Regions from separate parts of the Homo sapiens genome. Here region 2 is linked to region 1. The links come from fine-mapping of genetic effects on gene expression. Tissue or cell type: thyroid. Region 1 holds a variant in brackets; the other region holds the start of a gene. All regions are shown on one strand. Distances are from middle to middle.

Region 1 (8,120 bases):
ACCAGGCTCAACCTGTGTCACAATGCCGAAGAAAGGCCAAGAAGAATGAAGGTGCCAAGCTGTGGCTCCTTTCCTGGGTGCTGTGAGACCAATCGCTACTGCAACAGGGGTTGTGGGTAGTGATCACTGGCTGGTTGTGTGTGATTCTGAGTCTTTTAATCCCTTCAGGCATGCAGATAAAAATTCCAATATTTCAAAGAAGGCCGTGAATATAAAAAAGAAAAAATTTGAGAATCTCCAGATAGGGGAGTTGAATTGTATTTTATAAGCAATGGGAAATCACTCATGGTTTTTTAACAGGAGAGTGACTTTATGGAAAAAACACAGCAGGAAGAATAATCTTGCAGTTAAATGCAAATTGGAATGAAAAGAGAAGAGAGTGTATAAGCAAGAATAAAACTTATTTCCATTCCTCTACAGTTTTAATTTTGAAGAGTAGAAAAAAGTATATAATTTTTAACTTTACAAAAATATTCCAATACATTGTCTGCTACCTACAAAAAAAAAGTAATGGAAGTAAAATCTAGAAATACTACTCCAAAAGAAAGTGTTTATGTAGCATTATTTCCTCTTCACATATGTTGCCTTTTTTTCAGCTTTGTAACATTTCAACTGTGTGGTTTTGGTCAAATTGATCAATCTCTGTAATCCTTGGTTTCGTGATCTGTAAAACGGAGAAAATGTGGTGTAATGCCACCTCATTGAGTCACTGTGAGGATTAAATGAAATAATGTATGTTAACTACCACTTCCTTTATAATATCCGAGGAGATTTTTATTTGGATCTCCCTAGCTTCGGACAAGAGAAATACTTCTTACAGTCTAAGAGTAACTTAGAATATGCCCCAAATATGAAGTTACAACCCAATTTTATGTTATGCTATGGAAATCCTAAAAGATATTTCTTAGAAAACCTGAAGTCTAGCATGAGAAAGATTGAAAATTTAAAGAGCAAAGTGATTGGAAACTCACTTATGAAGCCTATAACTTAAAATCTCATAATTAAATGAGCCAATATGGTTCTGGATGGCTCTGCTCAGATCTCAGTTTCAGACCACCTACCTTCAATGGGAAAATGGTATATGCCTGATATATTCTGTAAAATACCAACTTTATCTATGAGGAGGGAAGCTGTCACTGGTTACAAAAACAGACCATGGCTGGAGGTGTTGCAAGACAAAGAATCACACACTCTTTTTACACTTTCTCTGTGACCCCAAAATCAAAAACCCAGAGCCAATTTATCAGAAATTCACCCTAACTGAACACAGTGCCCATTTCTGCACAGACTACCTGTGGAGCAAGTTCAACAGCACTTGTATAGAGAACACCAGCACTTATTTGAAGCACTGGGGGTGCAAAAATGAAATAGAATGCATCCCTGCTCTTGAATGCTGGTGGGACATGGTATGCATGCTCTGTCAGAATTTATCATCTTCTCTCTCAACTCTGATTTCTTCACTGTGTTCCCATTTCTGTTTCTACACCATTACTCTGCACCAATCACTCAGGCCAGCAGAGCAGGGAGGTGATTTTCGATTCCTCCCATTCCTTTCCTGACTTCTTACAGATGCCAAGTTCTACCATTCTCCTTCCACAGTATCTCTAATATCTTTCTCTCCCTGCCATGTGAGAATATAGTGAGAAGGCAGCCTCTGCAAGCCGGAAAGAGGGCCCTCACTAGACACAGAGTTTGTTGGCACCTTGATCTTAGACTTCCCAGCCTCCAGAACTGTGAGAAATAAATGTCAATGTTTAAGCCACAGAATCTTTGGTATTTTGTGATAGCAGCCCAAGCTGACCAAGACAGTGATAGACGCAGGCATACAGCATAGCCTCCCAGGACAGAGGAGGGTGGAGAAGGGCCAAGCGTGAATCTGGAGGGACAAACTAAAGCCACCCAGTACAGACAGCTCTTAAGAGATAAGCAGAATTTGCAGTACAGCAGCAATCTATGTTTCACAAACTGCCACAGTAAATAATCTATCCTGTGTTATTGTTTTCTGTGGAATTCTCAAGCAGCAAGAGGGAATATTACCATGTAATCATTTCCCTTTATTTCAGTAATTTAAAGAGTGAAAACCTTGGAGCTTTTTTCTCCTTGAGAGACCAGAGCATATTTGTGGGTCCAATAACACCTTTGCAAAACAGAAGAAACATTAACTTTATCTTTATATTATCCAGGCAGAAGAATGCATTCTAATAAGCAATGAAGTGAAAAACCCTACTGTGATTGAATTTATTTTTCCATAGAAATGCAGGAAATAGTCATGAATGTTTTACTAAAATGCTTCCTAATCATAAGTGTATATCCGTGTCTTCACAAGTCATGTTTTTGAGCACTGCAACTCTCCAAGCCAGCAAAGAACTCTGTAAAATTGTCTTTAATCCCTCACAAATGACTCAGGAGTCCCACTGAGGCTTTATCACGTATTATTTAATAAATTCATGAATCTACAAACCAGAAGATGTGGAAAAACCATAGCAACCAGGAGCAAGATTGGAGAAGTTGGCCAGGGTTGAAGGACGCTAGGAGGCACATACAGCCTTCCTGAGCTCTGAAGCCCCTCCCTCCCGGCCCACCCCACATCACTTGACGTTGCCTTAGCCACACCTCTGCCTTCCGCAGACTCAGTACAGGAACTTGCAGCAGAATGGGCTTCAAGAGTTTAACTGCTCTAGTCACCTGCCTTCAGATAAATTATTAACACTTTATACATGAGGAAAATAAGACCCTAAGACTTTAAGTAGCTTGTCCAAAGTCACAGATTAATACATAGAAGAAGAATATGTAGGATGAACAAGCCTAGAATCTCATGTATGACATGAGGACTATAGTTAAGAAAATTATATTGTATTTTTGTTAATAAATAAATTTTAGCTTTTCTTGTTACAAAAAGAAGTAACTATGTGAGATGATAGACATGTTAATTTGCTTTATGACAGGACTATTTTACTATCTATATGTATCCCATAACATTGTGTTGTAAACCTCAAATATATACAATACAATTTATTAGAAACAATAAACAGAGAATGATAACTAAAGTCCTGATCTTCCTAGCACAATACTTTTACCAACTCCAATTTTTGCATGTTCTGGCTCTACAAATGAGATGAGGGAAAAGAGAACACAAATTCCCTATACATTTCTGATGCAGTAAACATAGCAATTGAAAATAGAATGCTGGAACTGTAATTCATGTGTAAAATTACACTCACTGATAAAAAATTTTTTCACATTACAGTAAATTTGCCCTTGAGAAAACGTGGTGAAATATTTCAGGTATTATTTTCTGTCAGCCTAGCCAACACGACCCAGGGTACTTTTATTCTTTCCAAGTCCTCATAATTGCTAGAGAATTTGTTCATTTCTTTAATGATAAATATTGTAGGAACACGAGAGCAGGTGTCCCTGAAATAACATTAATTAGGCAAACTAAAATCACATATGCATAAAGAACAAGAACAAAAGTTCTCTATTTAGAGCTAGTAAAAGCATGACTGGTATAAAGCTTACTGTCACGTTGTTGTCATTGTCACCATCATCATCCTTGTTATCATCTAATCGCAAGGCAATCTCACTAAAGACAGACAGAATTCTCATATTCTTTCACGGTCCCTAATGAGATTACCTTAACCCTATCCCTAGCTCTGCACATCCTGTGACATTAAATGATGCTTGTAAAGGACCATCTCTGCTAGATAATTTTGGTATTTTCATTCTTTTCTGAAAATCAGTACAGATTACCCAGGCTTTGCACCCCCAGAGGATCTGAGTCAGTGTTTTGGGATAGAGCCCAGCCATCGGTATGTTGTAAAAGCTCCCCAGGTGATTCTGATGAATCAAAACACAGAAGACTGGGCTCTGTCCCAGAATGACTGACTCAGAATCTCTGGGGCTCAAGGCCTGGGAGACATTCACTTCAAAAAACCTCCCCTGGGTGACTCAGATGCATATCAGAGAGTGAGAAATGCTCTCCTCAATTGACAGGCATAAATCTATCCACAACATCAGGAGGATACACCGGAGTTACAACCAATATCAAATGAATATTTGAATACAGACTCCAGCCATGGCCATAGCTAATCTCCCGTTGGCTTTCCAATTTGGATAAATGCTAAATTTGCTCATTAGGGTAGCTGTTGGCATATTTAAATATACCATGGAGACTGCAACTTTAGTGCATCTCTTGCATTTTCATATATTCACAAATCACCTTTATGAAGACTAGCTTCACAGAAAATAATTTTTTAAATGCACGTTAACAAGAACAGAAACCAAGCAACAGCCTCAATTTGAGAAAATGTTTAATTTTACCATAGGAATCTTTTTGTTCCCTCTCTTCACATGTTAAAATAAATCTGAGGCTATTTACAAAACCTTGTGCTGAATTAAGTGAAACACAAATGAAACAACCCTCATTATTAAAAGTCTATAAATTAAAATAATAACAAAGGCTGACCCCAAACTCCACCTAAGATGAGAGCAACCCGACATTTCAAGAAGAAACACTTTCCCAGAGAACAAGTCATGAAGCATGACATCTTAAAACTCCAGAGTACAAAATGTCAACACCAAAAGGACTGAGTTGGTAAAAATTGAGAAAGAGTGGGTACTGAGAAGTAAAATCTGTTTCAAACAAAACTAACTCCTGCAAGATTTTGC[A/G]CTTCACTGAATAACTACAGCACATTGGTGTGTTCATTTTTTTCTTTTTTCTCTACAGATTCATTCCTTCTACTTTGTACAAGCCCTAACAGTAAGCTATAAAAATGTCATAAATTATTACAGTGCAAATAGTGTAAAATCTTATGCTCACAAGGAGGTCCAAAGTGGTAATCATGCATTCCTTAGTTTGAAATACAAAGAAAAACATGCTTTTTGCTTACAAAGTAAAATGATGACAATTGCAAAACATCTCAGTAGAACTGGTACCTAATTTCTGTTGCCAGTGAAGGGAGGGGAGATATTAGGACAGGTGTTAGAAAGGACAATGGTATAACTAAACCGTCATTCACTTAATGGAAGTCCCAGTATGATGAAAGAACAATGTTATTTTTAGATCAAATCCTTCCTATCCAGCATGTCAGTATAAAAATTGCTTCTCAGAGAACCAAAATAGGCCGGGCACAGTGGCTCATGCCTGTAATCCTAACACTTTAGGAGGCCGAGGTAGGCGGATCACCTGAGGTCAGGAGTTCGAGACCAGCATGGCCAGCATGGCCAGCATGGCGAAACCCCATCTCTACTAAAACTACAAAAATTAACTAGGTATGGTGGTGCATGCCTGTAATCTCAGCTACTCAGGAGGCTGAGGCAGGAGAATTGCTTGAACCCAGAAGGCAGAGATTGCAGTGGGCCGAGATCGCACCACTGCACTCCAGCCTGGGTAACAGAGGGAGACTCTGTCTCAAAAACAAAACAAAACAAAACAAAAATAACCAAACTAGAATGGTTGAAGTATTAACAGACCAATACAGAAGTTGCTGTTTGCCACAGAAACATGAAAATAGAACCAGTGTTATTCACTGTGCCCATGGGGCAACCCGTGCTTGAAGAAAAGGGCCCCTCCCATCTCCTTCAGATCCTGTAATCATATTGTTCCTCCTCACCAGACACCAACTCATTTGGAAGGATACAGAGTCCAAGTAGGTCCTATAGTATGTCTCCAGTGAGTCCTTGCAGTTCACAAGCTGTGGTGAAGCCACATTAATACAGCTACTTCTCAACAATTGGAAGTCAGATAAAACAGTGGATGGGAAATATAATCAGAAGTCAGTCATAATGGAAAAATTTGCATAAATCAACAGTTTCTAACTCTCCCAACCCCCAAGACTTTCTCAACACTCCTAAAAAGCAACAAATGACTGATTTGCTTTTCACATCCTCTCCCTTCTTTTGCTCTTTCTCATTGTCAGCAGAACAATACGCAAAATGTGACTGACAAGAAAGAGAAAGAGGAGCAAAAGGACTCTATAACATTTCTGTCATGTAATTACTGAGGACTCAAGAGTTGGCTGGAGAGGAATGACCCCTGCCCAGTTTCTGCTGCTAGTAATAATTTGGAGTCCTGGAGGACAGGCCAAACTCAACATGCCTAAAATTTAATTTAGCACTGATCACCCACGAACACCTCTCTCCTTCCAGCCTCGCTAGTCTGTCAAAGTTGCCATGTTAAAACCTAAGTGTTACCCTTGGCTCCTTCTTATTCTGGCATCAAGCCATGTCTAGTCTCCAAATGATTTCAGCTCTTTCAGAGTTCTCAGAATGTTCCTTTCTTTTAATTTCCATTGTTTGGGCTGAGAGTTAAAGAATGCAGGAATTTTCTAAACAACACATTTGGGAAACATTCCAAGAAACAGAACCATCTGCATCAAGATGCAGGTTGTGAGAGGATGGCACACTAGGAACTACCGGTGACCTGGTATTATTGCAATCCAAAGTGGCAAGAAAGGAGGTGAGAAAGGCCTGTAGCAGGAAGGACCTTTGATTTCTCAATGAGAAGCTTGAATGTTTTCCAGCAGCCAGTGTTTTGCAGACTTCAGTAGTTTAACTAATGACTTACCTACATACCACCCATATTATTCTTATTTGCTTAATAGTTTTTCTCTGAACTCACTTATTGTTCCATATTAATCAACTTATTTAACATTGAAATTTTATTTTTTATTTTATTGATTGATTGATTGATTGATTTGAGATGGAGTCTCGCTGTCACCAGGCTGGAGTGCAGTGGCGCGATCTCAGCTCACTGCAACCTCCGACTCCCTGGTTCAAGTGATTCTCCTGCCTCAGCCTCCCGAGTAGCTGGGACTACAGGCATGCGCCATCACATCCAGCTAATTTTTGTATTTTTAGTAGAAACGGGGTTTCACCATGTTGACCAAGAGGGTCTCGATCTCCTAAGCTCGTGATCCGCCTGCCTCAGCCTCCCAAAGTGCTGGGATTACAGGTGTGAGCCACTGCGCCGGCCTGAAATTTTATTTTAACTCAAACATTTCCTTATGAAAACTTTGAAATATACACAATAGAGACAATAGTATAATTAATCTACATGTACTCAGCACAGCAAATATCAGCCCATGACCAATCTTGTTTCCTTTGTACTCCCCTAAGCACCACCGCTACCTCCACCTCCATCAGCACACACACAAGCACACCCTTCCTGAATTACTTTAAGCAGATCACAGACATTATATCTTTCCATCTATATATAATTTGTATCTGTAAAGGATAATGACTATAACGCCATCATCACACCTAAAAAAATTAATAACAATTCCTAAATATCATCTTACATCCAGAACATTAAAATTTTACATCACTGTCATATATTAAAAACTGAAATAATTTGCCACAAATTTTTAAAAGAAAATGTTATTAACATTATGGCATGATATGCTTGTAATTGGAACACTTAGCTTGAAGGCTCTTCTCCTTACTAAAAACTGAGATTAGAAAATGTTACACTGGTCTTCCACTTATACATCCTCATTGTCAGAAGGAGAAGGATTGAAAGGGAACTTAAAATGAAATAAATTTTTCACTGTGTAATTTAAAATTATTTAACACCATGTCTGAGTACCACCTAAATCTTGCATTTAACCAGGAATATCTGTCCCACACTTCAAGAGACACTGTTACAGGGAATCATCAAAGAATTTAGGGCTTGATGGAATTCCTAATTGCGAAGAATTTTTCTAGCAGCGAAAAGAGCAGAAGGGAGGTATGATGGAGAAACGGACAACCTGTATGTCCCACAACTTACTGAGCCACTTTCAAATTTCTTGAAAGTTTGTTTGGCTCAAATACTGTAGTTCTCCTAGTGCTCCAATAGGGGAGCATACAGACTCGCATGCCTTTGACCAAGGGTAGACCTCCTCCAATTGGAAAGACCACTTGCTTTGACCAATCTCACAGCTTCTGGGATAGGGACCACACGTGCGTATAGGAGAGGAAGGGGACTTAACCTAGCCAACCCGGCTGAATAGAACCTTGCTATCAATGAGGTGACTGATGTCACATCCTGATGACCGTCACATATCATACCATCATTTCTTGAACCATCACTGTCACCCAAGATACCCCCCACTTCTCCAAAGCCAATCTTCCCTAGAAAG
Region 2 (8,120 bases), 32 kb after region 1:
ATATCTCCAATCAGACATCTACTCTGAACTCTAAGCTTACTCTACATCTCCAATTACATTTAGTATCTCTAAAACGTTATCCTTATCCCCTGACAATCCACCCCCCACCCCTTTCCAAAGTTTCTCTACCTTGAAACCTTCCACACTTCAGCTGATGGCAACTCAAACTTAGTCAAACCAGAAAAGATGCAGTCATTTTTTACTCCTATCTTTCTTACAGATACCATATCCAATCTATCAGGGTACCCTATTGGCTCTAATTTCAAATATATGCAGACTCTGACCACCTTTCTCTTCTTCTAGTGCTACAACTCTGGTTCAAGCCACCATCATGTCTCACCTACGTTATCACAATAACATACTAATTAGGTGTTTTCACCCTGTCCCAGTACAGCAGTGAGACTGATCTTTGTGTAAGATAAGTCACATCACTCTTCTCCCAAAACTCTTCAAATGCTCATTTCATTCAGAATACAAGCCAAAGGATTGACAATGACCTCTAAGGCCCTCCTTTATCTGCACTCCTGGATCCTCAGTGACCTCATCTCCAACCACTTTCCCAATTGTTCACTCCACTTCAGCCATACAGGCCTCCCTGCTGTTTCTCCAGCATGCTAGTTGTACTCTACCTCAGATCTTTGCGCTAGCTATTCCCACTGCCCAGAATGTGTTCTTCTGGATGTCCATATGGCTAACTCCCTCATATCCTTCAGGTCTTTGCTGAATTGTTACTTCCTCAGTGAGGACTTCCCTGATGAGCCTATTTAAAATTGTGATAATTTCTACCCCCAGAATATTTTATCCTTTTTATCCTGTTGTAATTTTTCAAAAGGCACTTATCACCTTGAAACATACTAAATAATTTATGTACTTGTTTATTTCTTTATTGTCTTGTTTGCTCCCACTAGAACTTAAGTTCTTAAAAGGAAAATACTTTTGTCTGTTTTGCTCATTGGTGTACTCCTGACACATAGGAGGTGCTCAATTAACACTTGTTGAATGAATGAATCTATTCCCTACCTAAGTAACCACACTATGCATTAATCATCTTTTTTAAAAAAAATGTTTAAATAAATATAGAAACAGTGTCTCACTACATTGGTCAAGTTGGTCTTGAACTCCCGGCCTCAAGCAATCCTCCTGCCTTGGCCTCCCAAAGTGCTAGGATTACAGACATGAGCCACTGCACCCACCTTTAATCATCTTTGTATCCAGATTTCTTATTTATATTTACTCAATAACTGTTCATTAATTGAACAGGATAAATAAAACAAATGCCCTATTGCCCATTAAAGTACCTTCATTTATCTGAATTCTATCATGTTTCTTTTTTTGCATCAGCCTGACTACTAGAATTTTTTCTGAACAAGGTACAAGCAAACAGCAGGATGCATTAACAGAAGGCTTGATCTTCAGTGCATTTTCTTAGAGGTAAGTCCCCGTCTATCTCCAAAAAGGTAAATGGCATAGATATCTAGAGATTGTCCTTCATATGTGATCAGACAGGAAATGAGAAAGTCACCTTGCTTTCACATATTATATATTCATCACTGTAGCCTTTTCTTAAGTATATTTTTCCAGACTTCCCCTAAGCTGTTGCTCATTCCCTGTAACAGCCAAATCAATTGACCATATTGTACTGGTTTGCTTCAGTGTGTTTGTTTACTAGTTGAAGCCTGCATTAGGACAGGATTATTTCATGGTGCTCGGTTCCCTGGCCCTCCTCCAGCTTTCTCCTCTCTCAATCTCTCACTGTGCAAAATAGCAATCTTTCTCTACTTCCGAAAGCATGAGCATCCTGAGATTTATCTGACTATCACTTAATTCTCTCTTCTTGTGAGATTCTCTGCCTTCACTCTTTTAACTCTACGGTCTGAACTTAGGTAGGTAAGTGCCCATCACAAATAACCATGCCAAGTTAATCTTTATCCCTTTTGGCTACCAGTTATAGCCTTGGCCAGTGCTCTTCCCTTTTTTTGTCCTGTTATTGTGTTGCAAATGAAGCATGTGCAGCTATTTGAGCAAGTACAAAAATATAATATGAACATGTTCTTATCTAAAATGTCACTTTTTCAGTATTCTTTTTGGGTTGTTCATTGTTAGCCAAAGTTCCATTGTCATAAAAATTACAATAATAAACCACCCTGAGTCTTGTAATTTCACACACAGCTTCTACATTCTCTAAGCCACTAAAATCCCATGGTTCCTAATTAAAATATTCAAAGGTGAAAGTCAAGTAATTTCCACAAGATATATTAGTTCCTTTACTTATGTTTCCAGGGTTAAAAAAGAAATCCTTTGCCAATAAAAAAGGAGAAGTTTTTGAGTGTATAGTACTTCAAAGGGCATTCCACAGTGTGTTATTTTCTTTCCAGAAAATTCTAACACTATATAATTACTTTTGTATGGAAAATGAATAATTTAAGCCCCTAATGCTAAAAACAGCTAGACAGAAACCATCCAAATCAGATAGGCCTTTCCTGAAACCAGATGAAATATCGAACTAGAAAATATCTGTGTGAGAACAGCCCATGGAACAAAGCTCTTGAATTATTATTCAATAGAGAGGAAGCATGGTAGGGGAGAAAGTTACATGAAAAAATAGTGTTTTCTTGTCTTTGTGCCGGAATTTTTGTGGGTCCCACGCATCACAGAAACTGTAATGTTGATTGCACCCCAAATGTCATAGAAAAATACGTATCAGAAATGCATCTAGGAGCTTCCAAGCTTCTGACAACAATAACGGCAAAAACATCAATTAAGCTTCATCTGTTGCAACAGAAATGCATTGATAAAGAAAAAAGCGAAAGCCCACCTGCATAGAAACTAAACCGCAGCTACTCCTCCAATTCGAAGAAAAATGAGCTGCACTTCAGTCGCCAGTAGAACTAATCCCAGCAAATATAGCTAGTGGGTTTGTGTACTGGGGGAGGGGGACTGCGAGCAGAGCACACCTCATCGCCCTCCCACCAAAACTGGTCCAAAAACGTGAAAGCATCCACGCCGCATGACCTCGCTTAGCTGGAAGAAAGCGGTGACCGCGACGTGCGGCGGGGGCGGGTGGCCCTGTCGCCTCCCCTTCTCAGACCCCCCCCCCCCACGCCCCCAGTCTTTTGCACGGGTCTCTGGCTCCAAGCTCTGGGGCTCGGAGACCTGAGCAGGTTCTTTTCTCTTCCCAGGGTGAAGAACCTCCTAAAGATACTGTAACCGGAGTAACTCCCGCGCTGGCAGCGTCTCAACAGCCCGGAGTGAACGAGCTGACCCCACCAGCGCCGGGACCCACGTCTGGGTCGGCCGCCCCCGCCAGCCCCACCCCCGAGCCTCCCCAGCCTGCGTCCCCAGCGCCCCGCACGCAGTAGGGGCTTTCGGGGCATGTATCCCCTAGGGCTGACTTTCCGCTAAGTGAACAGCCATGTTAGCCTCCTCCGGGCGTAAATCCACCAGGGTGAGCCGGCCAACGGCGGTCAGGAGCGCTCACCAGGTCCCCTCCGCACCTCCCCCCAAGGCTACGACTGTTTCCAAACTCCTGGGCGCACCCAGCCGGGCCCCTTGCCCTCTCACGGTTCAGCACCGAGGACAGCGGACATACTTTTCTCCCCGGGGGGTCCCCGCCGCCAGGAAGGCGGTGTTGACAGCGTCCGCAGGGCTGCAGGTGTCCGTACCGCGCGCCCGCCCGTCCGCATCCCCGCGGCACCCCTGCGCGCCCACCTCCCTTCCCCGCCTCGCGCAGGGCAGCCGCGCGGCGTCTTACTTTTCTGGCTGGAGTAACCTGGATAATAGCCATAGTAGCCGGTGATCCGCAGGATCCGGTCCTCGATAGTGGCCACCCCGTTGGGGGCCGCCTTGACATCCATAGAGAGCGCGGGGCGACGGCCCCGAGTGCGGCGGGGCGGAGAGCGCAGCGCGGGGCCCGGGAGCTGGTGCAGGTGCCGGAGCCGCTGGTGCTGATCTTGCAGCTCCTGCTCCCGCGCCCGGGCTCTGACTCCACCGCCCGGCGCAGCACCGGCTCCGCATCACAGCGGCGGCGGCGGCGGCGGCGGCGGAGCGGCCCCCACTCGGGCCGGCCTCTCCGTCAGCCTGGCAGCTCTCCCGCGCGCCACCCGGAGCACTGCTGCCCGAATAGCGCCCCCTCACCTCCGACGCCCACCGTGGCCGGGGGCGGGTGTGGGCGCCCCACCTGGTCGCCAGCTTTCATCATTAACCCTTGCGCGATCCTTCCCGAAAACTAGACACCCCAACCCCACCTGATGAAAGGGATGTTTGGTCAGTGGGGCGCGAGAGGAGAAGGCGACGGTGGCCAGGGGCTCAGAGAAGGGTGTTGGGAGTGGGAGAAACCCAAGAGGGACTCATAGCTGTTAATGCGAGGCATTAACTCTGTCGCTCGGGGAGAAGACACTTCTGGGGCGCCCCGGGACTCGGTCCACGCTTGGCGTCTACACCACCTCTGGTCTGCTGATATGCAAGCATTCCCCCGCGTTAGTCAGTCCTTGCAACTTGTCTAGAAGACTGGGAATCTTTTTTTATGAAATGACAAGAAAATTAGTTCCCGGCAGGTGGTATATGGAGTGATTATCCAGGTTTTGCAGACGCAAAGACTGTAAGTGTTCAAGCGCTCAAGTCTGACTGTCCATACGGACCCTCCATCCTGCCACTGAAAAATGTCAAAGGCTTAGAAGATTCAGCTGCACACAGCACGTTTATTTTTCCAATTTCAAATGCTCTGAGGAGAAATGATTTTCTCCTTTATTGCCAAAAATATCAGGAGGGAAGTCCTTCAAACTGTAAATATCTGGACGAGTGAAAGTCTTAGCTACAGTCTAGAGCCTTTCCATTAGAGCAGAACATCCTTGAAGCTGTGTGTTCAGAGCGAACACCCTCCCCTCAGGTGTGGGACTCTTCTGCTTTAGCCAGAGACCCAATGGGTTAGGGTCAGTGAGCAGTGGAGACGATTCCTCTGTTCATAGTCTGCAGACACAGCTTCCTGCAAATAATAATAATAATAATAATAATAATAATAATAATAATAATAATTTTCAAAGTTTCATCTCAGAAATGAAAAGGTGGAGGTGGAGGGTTAGTGGAGGGGAGGGTCAGCTCATCAGCTTAGAGGCAATTTAGGTCCACCTTCCGTGCAGAGCTGGCTTAAGACATCCCTGCCAGGTTTCATATTACTAAAGCTTAGGGAGAAGAAAAAAAGAGAAACAAAAGTCGACTTCAATGCCCCTCTCAGAAACCTCCAGAGAACCTATCACACCATCCTGCCTCCAAGCATTTTCCACATTGTGTGTGGGCCCTTAAGAAGGAAGAAATATGCAAATTTTTTTTCTAAAAGGTAAATTAGGTTTAAGCATATGAAAACGCAATATTAAATTTTACAATATGTTTTGGGTTTTCATCCAAACACAAAGCTTAGCACGGGATCTTGAGAGTGGAGTCAATCTGAGATTATTGTGGCTGGAAGGAGAGTTCATAAAGAAACCAATTTCCTCCTACACCTGTTTTCTGGGCTAGGAAAGATGGAAGGGTGGAAAGAGCTAAAAGGTCAAAAGGAACTAAAAGGAAAAACCAACACTAGTGCAGTGATGGGGAGCTAGCCATATAAAGCAAAAATGAAAGCGTTATGCCTTTACACCCCCCCCCACGTGAAATAATATTCAGCACACTTTTGTTAGTTTTATTATTTCTGTGGCAAAATTATATCAAATGCATGTATTGCACATGGTAAAATGTGTTCATCACATATAATTTTAAATGTCACTTTTGTTTGAAGTTTCTATGAAAGATAAATTTTCCAATATTACATATATTATATATTTTGATAATAGCCATCATAATCCATAGCACATTAATATATATATCAGTAAGAGAGAAATTAGGAAACAATTCAAGCAAAAACCTTCTGATGTAACAGGAATATATATGTATACACATACATACACACACACATATGCAGACTTAAAAACAAGTGGTTTTTCCCATTGCTTATAACTTATCTTGCCATAATTAATGTACTTAAATTATAAATAACAATTACCGTGTAAGTCATTACCTTCTTCCTGCTTTTGCTTTATTTTCATAAATCTCCATAGAAGTAGATAAAAATGTATTTAACTGGATCTGATCATTCATATAAACAGTAAATTCAGCATAAATTTAAATACTACAATGTAAACATACCCGCAAGAGTCTATGTTTTCTTTTGAAAAAGTAAAAATTTTCAGACTGACCTGGAAATAAATTTTAAAATAGCAAAGCACTTACAAATCTCTCTATAATCATCTGTAATAGGATGACCAAAATAGTAAATGCCAGCAAGTGCTATAATCTAGGCCACACTTTTAATGGAAGGAACTGAAATCCTACAATTATAAATTGATAAACAGTCAAAGGTAAATTTCTGCTAGTCATGAACACTCTTGGCATATATGATAAAAGATGTTTTAATCTTTCAATAGTCATTTTAGACGTTATTAACAATTTACAGAAATTATTTTGAAGAAAGGATAATTTTTTTTTTTTTTTGAGACAAAGTCTCACTCTGTCACCCAGGCTGGAGTGCAATGGTGCAATCTCGGCTCACTGCAACCTCCGCCTCCCGGGTTCAAGTGATTCTCATGCCTCAGCCTCCGGAGTAATTAGGACTACAGGCACCCGACACCACGCCCAGCTAATTTTTTTGTATTTTTAGTAGAGATGGGGTTTCACCATGTTGGCCAGACTGGTCTCGAACTCCTGACCTCAGGTGATTCACCAAAGTGCTGGGACTACAGGCATGAGCCACCGTGCCCGGCGGAAGGAAGGATAACTTTTAAAGCATTTTTATGTTTGCATGTTTAGTCTACCAGTTTTCACAAACCCAAATATTCAAATTTACAAACTATGAGTTGCAATGTATGCCTCAAATCTATTCTGAAAGAATAAAGAAAAGACACAACTTAATAAATGAAGATTGAAGGTCATTATTTGATTCATAAAATAGTTTATCATGATAGCCCTTCACATAGCCAGTTTCTCTAGTAGTTGTAAATTATAATTCGATTTGTTATAAAACAAAATTTGTTTTTTGTGCGCTCTTCAGGAATTTTTTAATGCATCAAGCAGAGGGTATCTATCTGTGATCCCAGATGAGTTTTGATATATGAGCCATATGGATTTTGATCATCTGATCAAATCAGATTAGCTATTTATACTAATTGAGTATACAATTAGGTATTCACGTGTTGTGGTTTTTTTTTTTTTTAAAAAAAGCCAAATCATTTGTAAAGTAGTTCATGGGATGATCACTTACAGTCCTTGTGTCTGATGCTAGAATAGCTATACCAAGTAATAACATTAAAACTAAATATGATCACTGGGTATAAATTTTATTCAAAGATAAGCAGTCTGAAAATACCATATCAGTCTATACACTTTGGAAGGGTTAGTAAAATAAAATCCATGGAATCTAGTCTTCTGTACTTTAATTAGCAGAAAGGGATCAGAAAATCTGGGCTTTAGTCGTCTTTTTATGGCAGGAATAAGACACCTAATCTTTCTATTCACCTATTTGAAGTTACCACTGAAAGATGCTGAAAGAAGGGGAAATGATCTTTTTCCCCTCTGGGAAATTAGTATATTTTACCTATCTCCTTGGGCTAAAAGTAACTTGGCTGCTTGGAAAGCCAAGAATCTTTAAGCTTTTATAGTCAAGGGCCAATGTTACTTTGTACAAACACCAGCACTGTTTACAAAGAGTTGACCCCAAGAAATTTAAACAGTGTTAGTGTTTAAAAGCATCTGGCTTCTAGCCAACCAGGTGATAAGAAATGGCACCTGAGAAAGAAAAAGCATGCTCTTAATATTCCATTTTCAGGGAAGTTGTTTTGAGTATTTAACTGCCAAGTCATCAGCCACCCCATTTGGAATGCTGACACAGCCTTTCTGTTTCAATAGTAGGCAATGGCAGACATTGCTAATTTACCTTTCAGCTCAAAGGGGCTGGGTGTCTGTATGAGAAGACAGGGCAGAGTCCACTCTTCATTGGCCTCAGGTGCCAGGCTGCATCCCAGGACTAATTTTGAGGCTCAACTCTTTGGAAAGGCACTGAACCTCTTTGGAGAAAGTCTTAAGTAATTTCAACA

Direction of the effects. Alleles are on the strand shown, and positions count from the first base shown. SD is a standard deviation of normalised expression in the study named.
With allele G in place of A in region 1, the expression in thyroid of the gene that starts at base 4,121 in region 2 is higher (large effect, 1.0 SD a copy in GTEx).

Evidence for each region. PIP is the estimated chance that this variant, and not a neighbour inherited with it, causes the effect.
Region 2: SLC35F4 starts here. The variant in region 1 is fine-mapped to the expression of SLC35F4 in thyroid (GTEx, PIP above 0.99).

The regions. Positions count from the first base shown.
Region 1 is chr14:57,829,617-57,837,736 of GRCh38, forward strand. All of the region lies in intron 1 of SLC35F4 (solute carrier family 35 member F4), which reads right to left. It also overlaps the pseudogene RN7SKP99. Among named protein-coding and RNA genes, the nearest start is that of SLC35F4, 32 kb to the right of the region's middle. The variant A/G (reference allele first, on the strand shown) is at 4,669.
Region 2 is chr14:57,861,972-57,870,091 of GRCh38, forward strand. SLC35F4 (solute carrier family 35 member F4) reads right to left here and starts at 4,121. Exons shown (of 8, transcript NM_001306087.2): 1 at 3,752-4,121. The coding sequence starts at 3,854.